Homo sapiens: one gene and its partners. The protein of the gene in region 2 interacts with the protein of the main gene of each other region in a biochemical or structural test. Each region holds a gene or a part of one and is shown on either strand. Other genes may lie near its edges.

Region 1 (3,500 bases), on a different chromosome or scaffold from region 2:
AGACTAGGGTAGGCAGCAGCACCAGGCGATGCAGTTGGGGCACCAGGGAGGGACATGGAGCTGAAGGAGGATGGAGTCTGAAAGCTGCCCACACCAAACTGGGAAGTACGAGTCTTAGCAGTAGCCTGGGTAGCCACCTGCTAAAGAGAGATGGAGAGGGGATATAGAACAAATACAGCATTAACATCATTGCACATACCATGCCTATGAGAGTCAACACTGTCAATCACTGCATCCTTCTGAACCAAGCTCATCACTTATTTCCTATTGTATATTTCTTCCAATTAACTCTCAATCTCTCTTGACACTATTTTTTAGGCAGCTGAGATAAAATTACAAAAAAGCAATGAACTATGGGATTAATAAAAATTGTAAGAATTAAATGAAAGCATCTTATAAACTGTGAAGTTATATAAAACTAGAGGCATTCATAACAGTAAAGTATTATATGCAGGCCAGGCGGGGTGGCTCATGGCTCATGCCTATAATCCCAGCACTTTGGGAGGCCAAGGCAGGCAGACCACCTGAGGTGAGGAGTTCCAGACCAGCCGGGCCAACATGGTGAAATCCCCGTCTCTACTAAAAATACAAAAATTAGCTGGGCATGGTGGCACGTGCCTGTAATCCCAGCAACCCAGGAGGCTGAGGCAGGAGAATCACTTGAACCCGGGAGACAGAGGTTGCAGTGAGCCAAGATCGCGCCACTGCACTCTAGCCTGGGCAACAGCGAGACTCTGTCTCAAAAAAACAAACAACAAAAAAAGTACCATATGCAGAGAAAAACTACTCTGCACCATTATTCTGTCTGTTCTGCATTCATTTGTTCCTAATGATGTATTTTTTATAAAAACTATTTTCTCATGAGAGTTCTGTATATGCATTATAGAATATTCAGAAAGTGAAGGAAAATATAAAGAAAATAAGAATCATTCATAATTCCATGGTTAACATGTTTGGATAATTTCTTCCAGTTTCTATTTTCTCATGCATTTTGTACACAATTGAGATCGTATTGCATATAACATTCTGGAACCTGCTTTTGGTTTTGACTTTTTAAAACTATTACTTGTATAACATAAATATATAGTAATATTAAAGAATCTTTCTTTAGACAGTGTATTTATTGTGCGTTATATTATATATATGAATATTATAAAAGAATTTTTCGGCTGGATGCGGTGGCTCATGCCTGTAATCCCAGCACTTTGGGAGGCCGAGGAGGGCGGATCACGAGGTCAAGAGATCAAGACCATCTTGGCTAACACGGTGAAATGCCGTCTCTACTAAAAATACAAAAAATTAGCCAGGCGTGGTGGCGAGCACCCTGTAGTCCCAGCTACTCGGGAGGCTGAGGCAGGAGAATGGCATGAACCCAGGAAGCGGAGCTTGCAGTGAGCCGAGATCGCGCCACTGCACTCCAGAGCCTGGGCAACAAAGTGACAGTCTGTCTCAAGAAAAAAAAAAAAAAAGAATTTTTCAGCCAGGCGCGGTGGCTCACGCCTGTAATCCCAGCACTTTGGGAGGCTGAGGTGGGCGGATCACAAGGTCAGGAGGTTGAGACCATCCTGGCTAACATGGTGAAACCCCATCTCTACTAAAAATACAAAAAAAAAAAATTAGGCGCAGTGGCGGGCGCCTGTACAAGTCCCAGCTACTTGGAAGGCTGAGGCAGGAGAATGGCGTGAACCCGGGAGGCAGAGCTTGCAGTGAGCCAAGATCGCACCACTGCACTCTAGCCTGGGCGACAGAGCAAGACTCTGTCTCAAAAAAAAAAAAAAAAAGAATTTTTCAACTTTTTTGTAAACAGACATCACTGTAAGTTAGTCATTAATTTTCTCCTTTGCTCCTGCCTTATGGAGTCCTAAACAAAGAGGAAACATCTTAGAATTTACTCCAAAACAAATCTGAAAATCAGACGTGCTCAAAACGTTCCAAGTGAGCAATTCTGATTTAAGGTGAAAACCACAGACTCTACTGAGATTTTTTTTTATTATCTGTGATTTTTAATTAGCTACTCTCAACAAAGATGGAAATTGGAAACCGGAGAACAGGGGTTGGGGAGAAGGTATTTAAAATAGAAAACACTGATTTTACATACGGAAAAAAGCCCAAACAAACAAAAAATAATACACAGGGAACACACAGATGATAAGTTTTACCTGGGCAGAAAAGCCTGAGCGGGTAGTAGGGGTCCAAGTTGGGGTTGCTCCTTGGGTGGGGTTGGAGTGGCGGGAAATCTGGGCCAACATCTGTCCTGCAGAAGCTGATGGCTGGACAATGGTTACAGGAGGGGCTAGGCCACTATTCCTAGGAGTGAATAAATGAGGTAAAAGATTAAAAGGATAGATTTATCACAGAAGCTAGGAATCAAAGGACAATCTAGTGCTATCCCTAGATCCCCTTGACTTCCTGCAGGTTAAGGAAAATTTGATAACAATTTGGAAAAGACAAGAAAGACTGACAGTCACACACTGACCAGGACACACAGAGATGGAGCCTAGAACATGGCAATAGGACAGGTGCAAAGAAATAGGAGGAAGAAAAGCAGCTTGTTTGCCTCACGCTAGGCCCTACAAGCTTCACTGCTTTTTCTGAAGTAACCAGAGAAAGCAAGGGAAGAATAAAATTTGGATTCAGCAGCTGAATCCCTCAGGGCCCTGTAAAGCAGCACATATATACGGGGCTCACCTGAAATTCTCTGCCGGCCGGGGGGTAGGAGGGAATGTGTTGCCCTGGGAGAATAGCTGTTGGGTGGCAGGGACAGTGCTGGAGGAGATGCCTTTACTCTGATCTGTGGACCAAAAGGAGTTGGGGAAGGGCCAGTCAAGGGGCTGTAGTATATTAGTTCAGCAAGTTCCTATTTACTCAGGTGGTATTATGATTAAGTGGAAAAACACTGGAAGATTACTGACTGGGCAGTGGCATGCCCATCAGTAAGTGATCTAAATGAGAATTTAAAAGGATAATGAGAAAGAAACATACCCGCATTGATGTTGTGATAGATTTCTGAAAATCTTGGATCTCTATCCTGGGCAAATAAACCATCTGACTTCTCAAGGGGCTTGCTGTGTTCTGGTCCTGTGGTTGTCACAGGCTGAACCACCTGTGGAATACAATGATAAAAATAACCATTAAAGATTTAACATGACAATTCAATAACCCTAAAATTCATATACAACATATGTACATTCTAACTAGTACCGGAGAACACTTCCTAAGTAAATACTCCCTACCCTCTTCAACGAAGAGGACACAACTCACCTGGGAATGATTGTAGCTGGCCAGTCCATCTCTTCCTGGTACCATGTCCAATTCTGTTTGCTGTTGCTGCTGCCTATATGTCAAAGGCCAGTTGACAAGACAAATAGAAAAAAAAATTTTTTTTAAAAAAGAATCTGGAGAAAGAACCTTAAAACAAATTAAACAGGCCGGGCATGGTGGCTCATGCCTGTAATCCCAACACTTTGGGAGGCCGAAGCAGGTGGATCACCTGAGGTCAG
Region 2 (4,059 bases):
AACTCGTCTCTGCTAAAATTACAAAAAATTCAGGCGGGCACAGTGGCTCACGCCCATAATCCCAGCACTTTGGGAGGCCGAGGCAGGAGGATCACAATGTCAGGAGATTGAGACCATCCTGGCTAACACGATGAAACCCTGTCTCTACTAAAAATACAAAAAATTAGCCAGGCATGGTGGTAGGCGCCTGTAGTCCCAGCTACTCGGGAGGCTGAGACAGGAGAATGGCATGAACCCAGGAGGCGGAGCTTGCAGTGAGCTGAGATCAGGCCACCGCACCCCAGCCTGGGCAACAGAGCAAGACTCCATCTCAAAAAAAAAAAAAAAAAAAAAAAAAAAAATTCGCCAGGCGTGGTGGTGCATGCCTGTAATCTCAGCTACTCAGGAGGCTGAGTCAGGAGAATCGCTTGAACCTGGGAAGTGGAGGTTACGGTGAGCCGAGATCAGGCCATTGCACTCCAGCCTGGGCAACAAGAGTGAAACTCGGTCTCAAAAAAAAAAAAAAAAAAAAAAAGTGCTGGTTCACACCTGTAATCCCAGCACTTTGGGAGGCAGAGGCAGGCGGATCACGAGGTCAGGAGTTCGAGACCAGCCTGGCCAATATAGTAAAACCCCGTCTCTACTAAAATTGCAAAAATTAGCTGGGCGTGGTGGCACGTACCTGTAGTCCCAGCTATTTGGGAGACTGAGCCAGGCCAATCAGTTGAACCCAGGAGGTAGAGGTTGCAGCGAGCCAAGATCACGCCACTGCACTCTAGTCTGGGTGACAGAGCAAGACTCTGTCTCAAAAAAGAAAAAGAAAAAGAAAAAGAAAAAAAGCCTTAGCAAGCTATATGATCATGTCCCAGATAAAACAAATTTAAATTATCAAAACCTGTGGTTAGGCCATGAACCAAAAATGATTCCTACATTTTTTAAATGTATATTTTTAAAAAAACACAGGAGGCGGAAGTTGCAGTGAGCCAAGATCACACTACTGCACTCTAGCCTAGGCAACAGAATGAGACCAAAAAAAAAAAAAAAAAAAATGTGAATGAGATAAGAGATATTTGTGGCCTGCAAAGCTGAATATTTACTGGCTGACCCTTTATACAAGTTGGCTAACACATTAAAACTACAAACAGGGCCGAGTGCGGTGGCTCACGCCTGTAATCTCCAGCACTTTGGGAGGCTGAGATGGGTGCATCACCTAAGGTCAGGAGTTCAGAGACCAGCCTGGCAAACATTATGAAACCCCATCTCTACTAAAAATACAAAAAATTAGCTGGGTGTGGTGATGGGCACCTGTAATCCCAGCTACTCAGGATGCTGCAGCAGGAGAATCGCTTGAAATAAGGAGGTGGAGGTTGCAGTGAGCCCAGACCACGCCATTGCACTCCAGCCTGGACAACAGCGTGAAACTCCGTCTCAAAACACAACACAAAAACTGCAGACCAGGCGCAGTGACTCAAGCCCATGATCCCAGCACTTTGTGAGGCCAAGGCTGATGGATCACCTGGGGCTGGGAGTTTGAGACCAGTCTGACCAACGTGGAGAAACCCCGTCTCTACTAAAAATACAAAATTAGCCAGGCGAGGTGGCGTATGCCTGTAATACCAGCTATTTGGGAGGCTGGGAGGGGGAGGGGGAGGGGGAGGTGGAGGTGGAGGTTGCGGTAAGCCGAGATCACGCCACTGCACTACAGCCTGGGCAACAGAGAGAGGCTGTGTCTCCCCCCCCAAAAAAAAAAAAAAAGCCAAAATAGGATTGGAACCCAGCATTTCTGACAGAAGGCTTATTTTTTTTCACTTCACAAAAAGGGACAATAATTTCTCCAGCGGTCCTTTTATTGCAAAGTAACTAACCATGTCTCTGTACTTCCAGTTTGTTTTATTATATAATCTAAACTAGCTTCTGCATACTTGACAACATGATAATGGAGTCCTGAGAGTCTAAAATTTGTTATGGAGGCAGTGAGAGAGTGATATTTGACCTTGAGTCTTTCTTGAACAAAGAAAAATTCTTTTATCTCCTGGGGATGTTAAAAGAAGAATGCTTCAGGGTCTAAAACCAAAGCAAGAAAGTAATTTTTTTAAAAAAAGAGTGCTCAAAAGACGGAATGTGGAAAGCCACAAGAGTTGCTTGATAGAAAAGTGCTAAGTGGGTATGCGTGGTGGTTCATGCCTATAATCCCAGCACTTTGGGAGGCCAAGGCAGGTAAATCACTTGAAGTCAGCCTGGACAACATGGTGAAACCCCATCGCTACTAAAAATACAAAAATTAGACAGGCATGGTGGCGCGCTCCTATAGTCCCAGCTACTTGGGAGGCTGAAGCACAAGAATCCTTGAACCCGGTGGTGGAGGTTGCAGTGAGCTGAGATCGTGCCACTGCACTGCAGCCTGGGTGAGAGAGTGAGATTCCGACTCAAAAAAAAAAAAAAAAAAAAAAAAAATAGTGCTGGCTAAGTGCGGTGGCTTATGGCAGTAATCTCAGCACTTTGGGAGGCTGAGGTGAGCAGGTCACCTGATGTCAGGAGTTCAAGACCAGCCTGGCCAACCACCGTGGTGAAATCCCGTCTCTACTAAAAATGTAAAAATTAGCTGGGCATGGTGGTGCACACCTGTGATCCCAGCTACTAGGATGGCTGAGGCGGGAGAATTGCTTGAACATGAAAGGCAGAGGTTGCAGTAAGCCAGATAGCGCCACTGCACTCTAGCCTGGGCGACAGAGTGAGACTCCTTCTCCGCACCACCCAAAAAAAAAAAAAAAAGTGCTACATTTTCCATAAAACATTACCTTGAACAGCTTTCACCTTTGTATCTTAGAGTGGAAACTACCACATAAAATAACTCGCTAGGACAGAGGTTCACAAGCCTTCCTGGTATATAGTGCCCTTGGTGTCTGAGGAGTTTTGTTGTGCTCTTAAGCCAAAAGGAGTAACTAGCAGTTGCTTTGATGACATAGCTGTATCCAAGCAACATAACTATATTGTCTTAGCAGCCTAGTAGCTATTGGAAAAACGAATTTACATTATTGGAAAGAAAAATATATATAGTTTCTTATATAACCATACCTATCAATGGAATGTGTATGGCTTTTGGATACTATATAACTTCTCAAACTTTGAAATGACTTCTATCATCTCACTCCTTGTTCCCCATTATTATTATTATTTTTTTTTGGTGGGGTGGGTACCTGTGTTTTTTTGAGTTATAGCAACCACCAGAAATTCAGTTTTTAGAAGATGAAACTTAATGGAGGGGTTTGCAGTACAATCTCATATTGAAACTGAACAACCTGAAACTAATAGTTTGCTTAGTGTCTTGGCTTATGTTGAGTATCACTGAATTACTCTGAAATTTAAAATATCCCAAGGTAGTTGTGAGTTCCTCCATGGGGCCCTGATACATCTTGGCACATGATTTGGTAGCCACAGGCCACAGGACTAGCAGGTTTATTCAGAAAGTTTTATAGTACTACAGCTGATTACAGAAGATCTCAAATATCTTACGGTTTCCCTGAGCAATGAGTATGTGGGAGACAGCTTGGTGTCAGACATTTATAGGCAAGGTGTTTGATACCTAAGAAGGAAAAACCATTTATGAACTCCAGGAACTACTTTTTTCCTTTCCATAGCAGAACTTTGATGTCTCATTCCTCACATATTACAAATAGGTATTTTTAATTTATTTATTATTTTTGAGATGGAGTCTGGCTCTGTCGCCCAGGTTGGAGTGCAGTGGCGTGATCTCGGCTCACAGCAGCTTCTGCCTCCTGGGTTCAAGCAGTTCTCCTTCCTCAGTCCCTTGAGTAGCTGGGATTACAGGCGCCCGCCACCAAGCCTGGCTAATTTTTGTTTTTTAGTAGAGGCAGGTTTTCACCATGTTGGCCAGGCTGGTCTCGAACTCCTGACCTCAGGTGAGCCACCCGCCTCAGCCTCCCAAAGTGCTGGAATTACAGGAGTGAGCCACCATACCCAGCCTGTTTTGTCTTTTATAATAAAATGTGCATTGCACATAGTAAAACTATCAAATGGATTAAAATAACTGGGACACTTTTCCTAGCAAACTGTTTCCAT
Region 3 (3,500 bases), on a different chromosome or scaffold from region 2:
TGAGCTGCAGCGGTGGAGGGAGCTGGGCAAGGGAGGATCGAGGAGGAGTCACTTAACCACCTTGTTGAAGAGGCCGTGGGGGCAGCCGGGGGTCTCTCTCTCCCCCCTATATGCCCTCAGCCCTTACAACCATGGAGTGGCATGCAGAGCCATCCACAGGCCCCTGGAGTGGGCACTGGACTGGCCCAGGCTCACGCTGGGCAGAGCTGGGAAGGGAAGCCCAGGCAGGAAGACCCCAAACCAAGCTGGTGCCTCCTCCTCCAGGCCACAGGCCCCCAACCCGCTCCTGAAGCAGGGAGAGCCATGGAATAGTCGAGGTTGCTGGTCCCTTTAGCACACTGGGGCGATGGAAAGGGAGGGGTCACAGGGGCAGGGTCTGGGGACATCTGCAGCCTGGAATCCCAGGGAAGAGAGGAACTTCCCAATACAAGCAGCCTGGGCAGAGCCTCCTCTCTAGGACATCCCAGTGATTAAACTCGAAACACAACAGTAGGGGGGCCCAGGCTGGGCGCCACTCACCGAGAACTTGGGGCGGAAGATTCCTGAGATGTGGCTCTTAAGGATCTCCAGCGTGGGTGTCCTTCCCCCCTCTCGCTCCTGCTCCTGAGGCCAGGGACAGACGTCAGCGGGTGGCCAGGCTTAGGGAGGGGGAGGGCGAAAATGAGGAGCGCAGCCCCAGGTGGGCAGGCCGGTGGCGGGCAGCGGCCGCGGATGGGGCAGCTCACCGAGGACGACGTGGAGTGGCGGTCATCCTGCAGGAGCAGCACAGGCGGGGGCTCGCCGGGGCCCAGGTGCTCCAGCTTGGTCTGCAGCAACTCCTGCTGGGCCTGCAGCTTGGCCTGGCTGCACAGCGCTACCTGCAGCCCCTGCAGTGCTTCTTGCAGCACTTGCCTCTTGCCCAGCAGCTGCACCCTGCAGGCAGGGGCGGGTGGGAGGGTGGATGAGAATAAGGGCTCGGTCTGCGGCGGGTAGCCAGCAGCAGTTAGGGTAGGTAGGAGGGAGGGAGGCCCAGGAGGCTGCTGCAGGCAGGGGCCCACTCACCGCTCCCGGGGGTGGGTGTTCTCCTCTTCATTCCGGAGCTCCTGTTGCAGCTGCGTAACCATCTCCTGCCGCCTGAACACCATCTCGGTGGCCACAGCCAGCTCATCTGTCACTGAGGTCAGCCTGCACCCAAGAGAAGGGCAGCATTAGAACCGAGCCCTCCTGCCCCCTCAACCCAGGTCCAGTGCATCCCTGTAGAGCCAAGCAAGCCCGGCCACCTGGTGACAGCTCTGTGTGGACAGTCTCCACGACCTAGCCCTGCCTACATAAACACTCGTGGTCTGCTGGGAGCCCCGCCGCAGCCCAGGTGCAAAGCCACCACCCACGTGTGCTGCACGCTCTCCACAGTCAGCTCGTTCAGCTGGAGCTCCCCAGGCTCCAGCGGTTCACCCTCCTCAAGCAGTGACTCATCGAACGTGACACAGGGTGGGACGTCAGGTGCGGACCTGTGGGGGACAGCGCCCCGTCAGTGGACAGGCCAGCAGCCCTGGGCCCAGCAGGAGCAAGGACGGGGCTTACCCATACTGTCGCAGGAAGCCTTGGTACTCAGCCTCAGGCTGGATGCGGGCAGCAGCTGCAGCCATCTCCCGGTGAATGGCCACCACCTCATCCTGCACCAGGCTGCTAATCTCCAGGTATTCCTGCAGGATCTCCTTCCTGCCCCCGAGACGGGATCCCCAGTCAGGGGAGCCTCAGGCTGGGCAAGGCTGGGCAGTTCAGGCCTAGGACCCTGGGTTTGGAGTCAGGGCTGGGGTTGACCCCTGCCTCACTTCGAGCTAGCCATGCCACTCTAGGCAAATTATTTAACCTCTCCCTAATCTTCTATTTCCTGATATATATAAGAGGGACACTGGCAGTTGTAATAAGGATCCAGTGGGCCAGGCACAGTGGCTCACGCCTATAATACCAACACTGGGAGGTCGAGGCGGGTGGATTGCCTGAGGTCAGTTCGAGACCAGCCTGGCTAACGTGGTGAAACCCCATCTCTACTGAAAAAGCAAATACAAAAATTAGCCAGGCATGGTGGCACATGCCTGTAGTCCCAGCTACTTGGCTACTCGGGAGGCTGAGGCAAGAGAATCGCTTGAGCCTGGGAGGTGGAGGTTGCAGTGAGCCAAGATCGCGCCACTGCACTCCAGCCTGGCGAAAGAATGAGACTACATCTCTAAATAAATAAATAAATAAATAAATAAATAAATAAATAAATAAATAAATGAACTGCTATCCTTGTCTCCTAAACCTCTTCTTCCCACAGCCTTCCCTACATAAGTTAACAGCCACTCCATCTTCCAGCTGCTCCAGGCCAAATCCCCAGAGTGACCCCTGACTCCTCTATTTCACGCCCCACTTCCAATCCATAGGGAAATCCCACTGGCTTCACCTTCCAGGACCTGACCGCGCCTCACCTCCATTGCTACCTCCCCGTCCTAGTGGCCAAAAGCTTGGATCTGGATTATGGCAAGAGCCTGCTCTCTGGCCTCCCAGCTTCTGTCCTTGCTCCCTGAAGTCTATTTGCAGCACAGCAGCCAGAGTGGCCTTATTAAAACAGAGGTCAGGGCTGGGCATGGTGGCTCATGCCTGTAATCCCGGCACTTTGGGAGGCAGAGGCAGGCAAATCGCTTTGAGCCCAGGAATTAGAGACTAGCCTGGGCAACATGGTGAAACCCCATCTCTACTAAAAATACAAAAATTAGCTGGGTGTGGTGGCGCATGCCCGTAGTTCCAGCTACTCGGGAGGCTGAGGCAGGGGAATCACTTGAACCTGGGAGGCGGAGGTTGCAGTAAGCCGAGATCATGCCACTGCACTCTAGCCTGGGCGGCAGAGCGAGACTCTGACTCAAAAAAAGTTAAAACAAAATGAAACAAAAAAACAGAGGTCAGATCATGCCATTCTTGTTCACCCAGAGCCAAAGTCCTCACCATGGCCCTGCTAGACCCTCTATCACCCAGTAGCCCTTGACGCCTGCCTCCTCCAGCCTCGTGTATGACTCTCCCCCTCCCTCACTCTCAGAGGCACCACTGGTTCCTGGCTATTAGTCCCTGGTACTCTCCTACCTCAAGGCCTGTGTAATTGCTGTCCTCCTTTCTGGAATGGTCTTTCTCCAAATAGCCCCATGATTCACTCCCGTACCCCTCTCAGGGGCCTCTTTGAATGTCACCTCTCAAGAGGCTTTCCCAGATCACTCTATGGACAACTGTCACCTCCTCCCTTGCCTCCGTGCTCCCAGGTCCCGATCCACTTCTCTTGCTTTATTTTTCTCCATGGCTCTTAGTGCTCCTCACATCCTCACTCCACTAACACGAAAGATCCCTGAGGACAGATGTTTTTGTCTACCATCGTTCTCTGGTATAATCCAGAGCCCAGAACAGTGCTCAATGAATGTAATAAAACCCTGGAATAATGAGACCCTGGAATAGTGTAATTCAGAGGTAAGTTGCCTGTTTCCAATCCTTGGCCC
Region 4 (3,500 bases), on a different chromosome or scaffold from region 2:
ATATACATCCTAGAGTGTTATAGGTAGAAAAAAATGTGAGGCACTTAGATGAAACAGTGAAGGAGGAAAGCACTGAGATTATCTTTTTATAAAAAGCACCAAACCATTTATTTTAACATCTGAGATAAAAGCAGAGGTTAACATGATAGGAAAAACTAGTTTAGTTCTCTAACTTTGTATTTGGGGAACTAATAAGAATCCAGTAGCTCAAAACTCAAAGTATTTTATTTTTACTGTGACAGAAATAATTCAAATAGAGAATATTTTCTAATTTAAAAGAATCTTAGTTTCCCTGATAAAGTTTTGTATATTTTGTGGTGCCCAGAATAATGTGAAATGTAGACGGTACCTCACCACTCCGTGGCAGCACCCTTTCTATCTTGACTGTAGTATATGTAATTTTGATACCATTTTTAAACTCCCTTTTCTAAAAGCAAAAATTAAAATTTGGTTTGGAATAATTGTGAATAGCATGCATCAATGCCTCCATGTGAACTTGCTGACGTCCAACAGTGACAGTTTTATTTTTCCATAATCCTTCACAAACTAATTTAATCCAAAAACCAGGGTCAAAATTGGGCTTGGAATTACAGGAATCCACTGGATGTCAAATCAGGAAAAGGTCTGGCTTCTGACGGATGATGAAGTGGCTGAAGATGTGTGGTAGTCTGAGTGTTATTTATGTTATTTAATTCAGCTGGATATGTTTCATTTAAAACTCCATTCTGAAACTGAAAACAAAAATGGTGATGCAACTTATTGGAATAGATCTTCCAAGTATCTTAAGCCAGTAAATAACATTAACATGTATTTTTAAAATCTTACCCCTGAGAGTTGTAAACTTCAAGTTCCTTTACTGTTGCTAAATTTTAAATCTTTCACACAGTGAAGACATACTGAGGACATATTATGTATTAGTTGCATTTATAACCTGTTTTTCCATTAATTTGACAGGAAATTTTGAACATGGTACAGATGAGTGATGCAGCTGTCTCATTTCAGATTGCCTTTGGGTCAGGTAGGAATTGATGGGTCAAACAGCACAAGTCACAAATTACAGTTAAATATTCTCTATCATAAGTAGGTTTGCTTTGACCAGGTTTGAAGTTATAGGTATCAATGAATTGATTATATTCAGGAATCTTACACTGGAATGCAAAACTTTTCCAAAAAAGGCAGCTTCTGATTTTCTAAATGTTTCTAAATATTCCTAAAATATTACACCACAGGTATGATTTTCTTAACCGATTTCTTATTCATAATATACTTTTAATTAATGAATACTACTGAAAGCATAGTTCTAATTACAGAATCAAGTTACCAAAAGAAAATGCTCTGTCTTGTTTTCTTACACTGCAATGAATCTGGTTTCTATAACTGCTAGTAGAAAAAAGAAAAATAAAAAGGAAGGACATGAAGATGTATAGCTCTGTAGAGTTTTATAGATTACAGAGCCTTTATATTTTAGTTAGTGGACGTTCTGGAAACTTTAAAACAGATTAAAATCATATCCTTAATTGCTTCAAATAAAATCTACCTTTGTAAAGCCTACATAACTGGCTTCAGTAATCAAAATGTTAATTACTTCACAGATCCTCCAAAACATATATAAAATCTATAGTAAAAATCATATAACCTGTATCTTCAATGAATGGCAACACTGTAAATTCTTTAAATAAAAAGTTAGTATTACCTGGCCAGATAATGGTGAGTTTAAAATGATTTTTTCTCATTACTCATAACACAATTCATGTCACCATTCTCTTTAAACATACTGTACACAGCAGTGTAATCCAATAGAAATATAATGTGAGCCACATACAGAACTTAAATTTTTGGCTACAGTAGATTAAATAAAATACATTTCTAAAGTTAATTTTACCTGTTTCTTTTTACTTTTGTAATGCGGCTACTGAAAAAACTAATCATTTCAACATGAAATCAATAATAAAAGATGAGATATTTTACATTCTTTTTTCAAGCCAAGTCTTCAAAATCCAAAAATCCAATGTGTACTTCACACAGCACATCTCAATTTGGACTAGCCACATTTCAAGTGCTGAACAGCTACTCAGTGGCTCAATATTGAGTGTCTTAGCTCAATAACATGTACTCTGGAACATATGTAGGTCTATAGAATTATTTGGTTATTTACAAAGAAGCAGTGAAAAGTAGTGAGGGGAAAACACTGCAAAGAACTTATGTGGTACTCATGCAACTCCTTATTCAAAATGTAATTTTACAGAATTAACTTCTGTACAATTTGCTTTACTCAAGAGTAAAATATACTTTCATAGCAATTTTGTGAGACGGACTATAACTGAATATTATTCAATTTTAATATAATTGAAGGATGTAAGGAATAAGAAAAATTTTCACTGTCCTTTTCTATTAAAAAGCTCATATACGATTAGACAAGCAAAATGTATGAAAAAGCCAGAAAATACAATTAAAGATAAAGCTTCAGGTCATACTTTTAATTATTATACTCTAATACAGAGTAAACAGGGGTCAAGGAGCTTAATTTTAGTCAAGATATTCTTTAAAACTAAACTTAAATATACTTTAAAATGAACTAAATATTTTCTAATGGAAAAAGCATAAATGCAAACATGATGTATTCCTGAGTGGCCAGAGACAGCAGTTACTGACATTATGTTAACTTTTTTTTTTTAAGTGATCATTTTTAGATTTAAAGTGTGCTCACTGCCAGACGGATTCTGATGACACATTTAAACAACAAAAATGCACTATCAAGCTTGATTTCCATGACAGAAAGCCAGCTGAGTTACCTCTTTTAAGAAAGCCAGAAAAGAAAGCCATTCTACCTTAAAGGATGAGATGAGGATAGGGGAGGTAATGTGGAGGAATAGCTAGAGAACATGGAGGTGCCTAGGACTGAATTCCAGGGATATAATTAATCTAGGGTTTCAGAGGCATTGTAAGAAAGCACACTTAAATTTGAGTTTAACTCAATTTCAAACATATATAAAAAAATAGAGCTTTGAAGAAATTATTCTTAAAAATTGCAATACGTTTTTTAAAGCTTGAATTTTTAAATAGCCATATAATTTTTAAAGAATCCAGAAAGAATAAACCAAATTATCTATTTTAAACAAAATACTTCTAAAAACTAATTTCACCTGGTAATTTAGGTCATCTTATATTAAGGACACATTCATGTTGCTTCATTCCTTGATATCTTTCTCCCTCATGAATCAGGTGAATGATATATTAGTAACATACTGGAAAAAGTACAGGCTTGTAAAAAAAAAAAAGGTAGTCACAGATATAATAAAAAATGCTGTCTCCATGAATGCTGTAGATAACCGATTAAAATCAGCTGACATAAAAAATGTGTAACATGTCTATAAGGTAAAAAGAATCACTGAAAGATTTAATTCAGTTTGATAACACCCTTACCTTGTTTAAAAATGCCTGTTGGCCTGGCAGTACTGGATTGTACTGCATCTGACCCACGTGGGTGTGCTGAGGTTCTG

Evidence for each region. The genes of interacting proteins can lie anywhere in the genome.
Region 1: the proteins of PTGES3 (region 2) and ARNT form a complex in vitro, tested with the Homo sapiens proteins (one study listed by BioGRID).
Region 3: the proteins of PTGES3 (region 2) and FES form a complex in vitro, tested with the Homo sapiens proteins (one study listed by BioGRID).
Region 4: the proteins of PTGES3 (region 2) and AHR form a complex in vitro, tested with the Homo sapiens proteins (one study listed by BioGRID).

Annotation. Positions count from the first base shown.
Region 1 is NC_000001.11:150,814,100-150,817,599, forward strand, and holds part of ARNT (aryl hydrocarbon receptor nuclear translocator), read right to left. Parts: intron 3,335-3,500; coding exon 3,262-3,334; intron 3,104-3,261; coding exon 2,983-3,103; intron 2,792-2,982; coding exon 2,689-2,791; intron 2,308-2,688; coding exon 2,160-2,307; intron 141-2,159; coding exon 1-140. UniProt on the Homo sapiens protein: Required for activity of the AHR. Upon ligand binding, AHR translocates into the nucleus, where it heterodimerizes with ARNT and induces transcription by binding to xenobiotic response elements (XRE).
Region 2 is NC_000012.12:56,674,514-56,678,572, forward strand, and holds part of PTGES3 (prostaglandin E synthase 3), read right to left. Parts: intron 1-4,059. UniProt on the Homo sapiens protein: Cytosolic prostaglandin synthase that catalyzes the oxidoreduction of prostaglandin endoperoxide H2 (PGH2) to prostaglandin E2 (PGE2).
Region 3 is NC_000015.10:90,887,504-90,891,003, reverse strand, and holds part of FES (tyrosine-protein kinase Fes/Fps), read right to left. Parts: intron 1,699-3,500; coding exon 1,561-1,698; intron 1,488-1,560; coding exon 1,368-1,487; intron 1,165-1,367; coding exon 1,042-1,164; intron 913-1,041; coding exon 726-912; intron 639-725; coding exon of another isoform or gene 604-638; coding exon 520-603; intron 23-519; coding exon 1-22. UniProt on the Homo sapiens protein: Tyrosine-protein kinase that acts downstream of cell surface receptors and plays a role in the regulation of the actin cytoskeleton, microtubule assembly, cell attachment and cell spreading.
Region 4 is NC_000007.14:17,340,152-17,343,651, reverse strand, and holds part of AHR (aryl hydrocarbon receptor), read right to left. Parts: coding exon 3,424-3,500; intron 732-3,423; coding exon 588-731; 3' UTR 1-587. UniProt on the Homo sapiens protein: Ligand-activated transcription factor that enables cells to adapt to changing conditions by sensing compounds from the environment, diet, microbiome and cellular metabolism, and which plays important roles in development, immunity and cancer.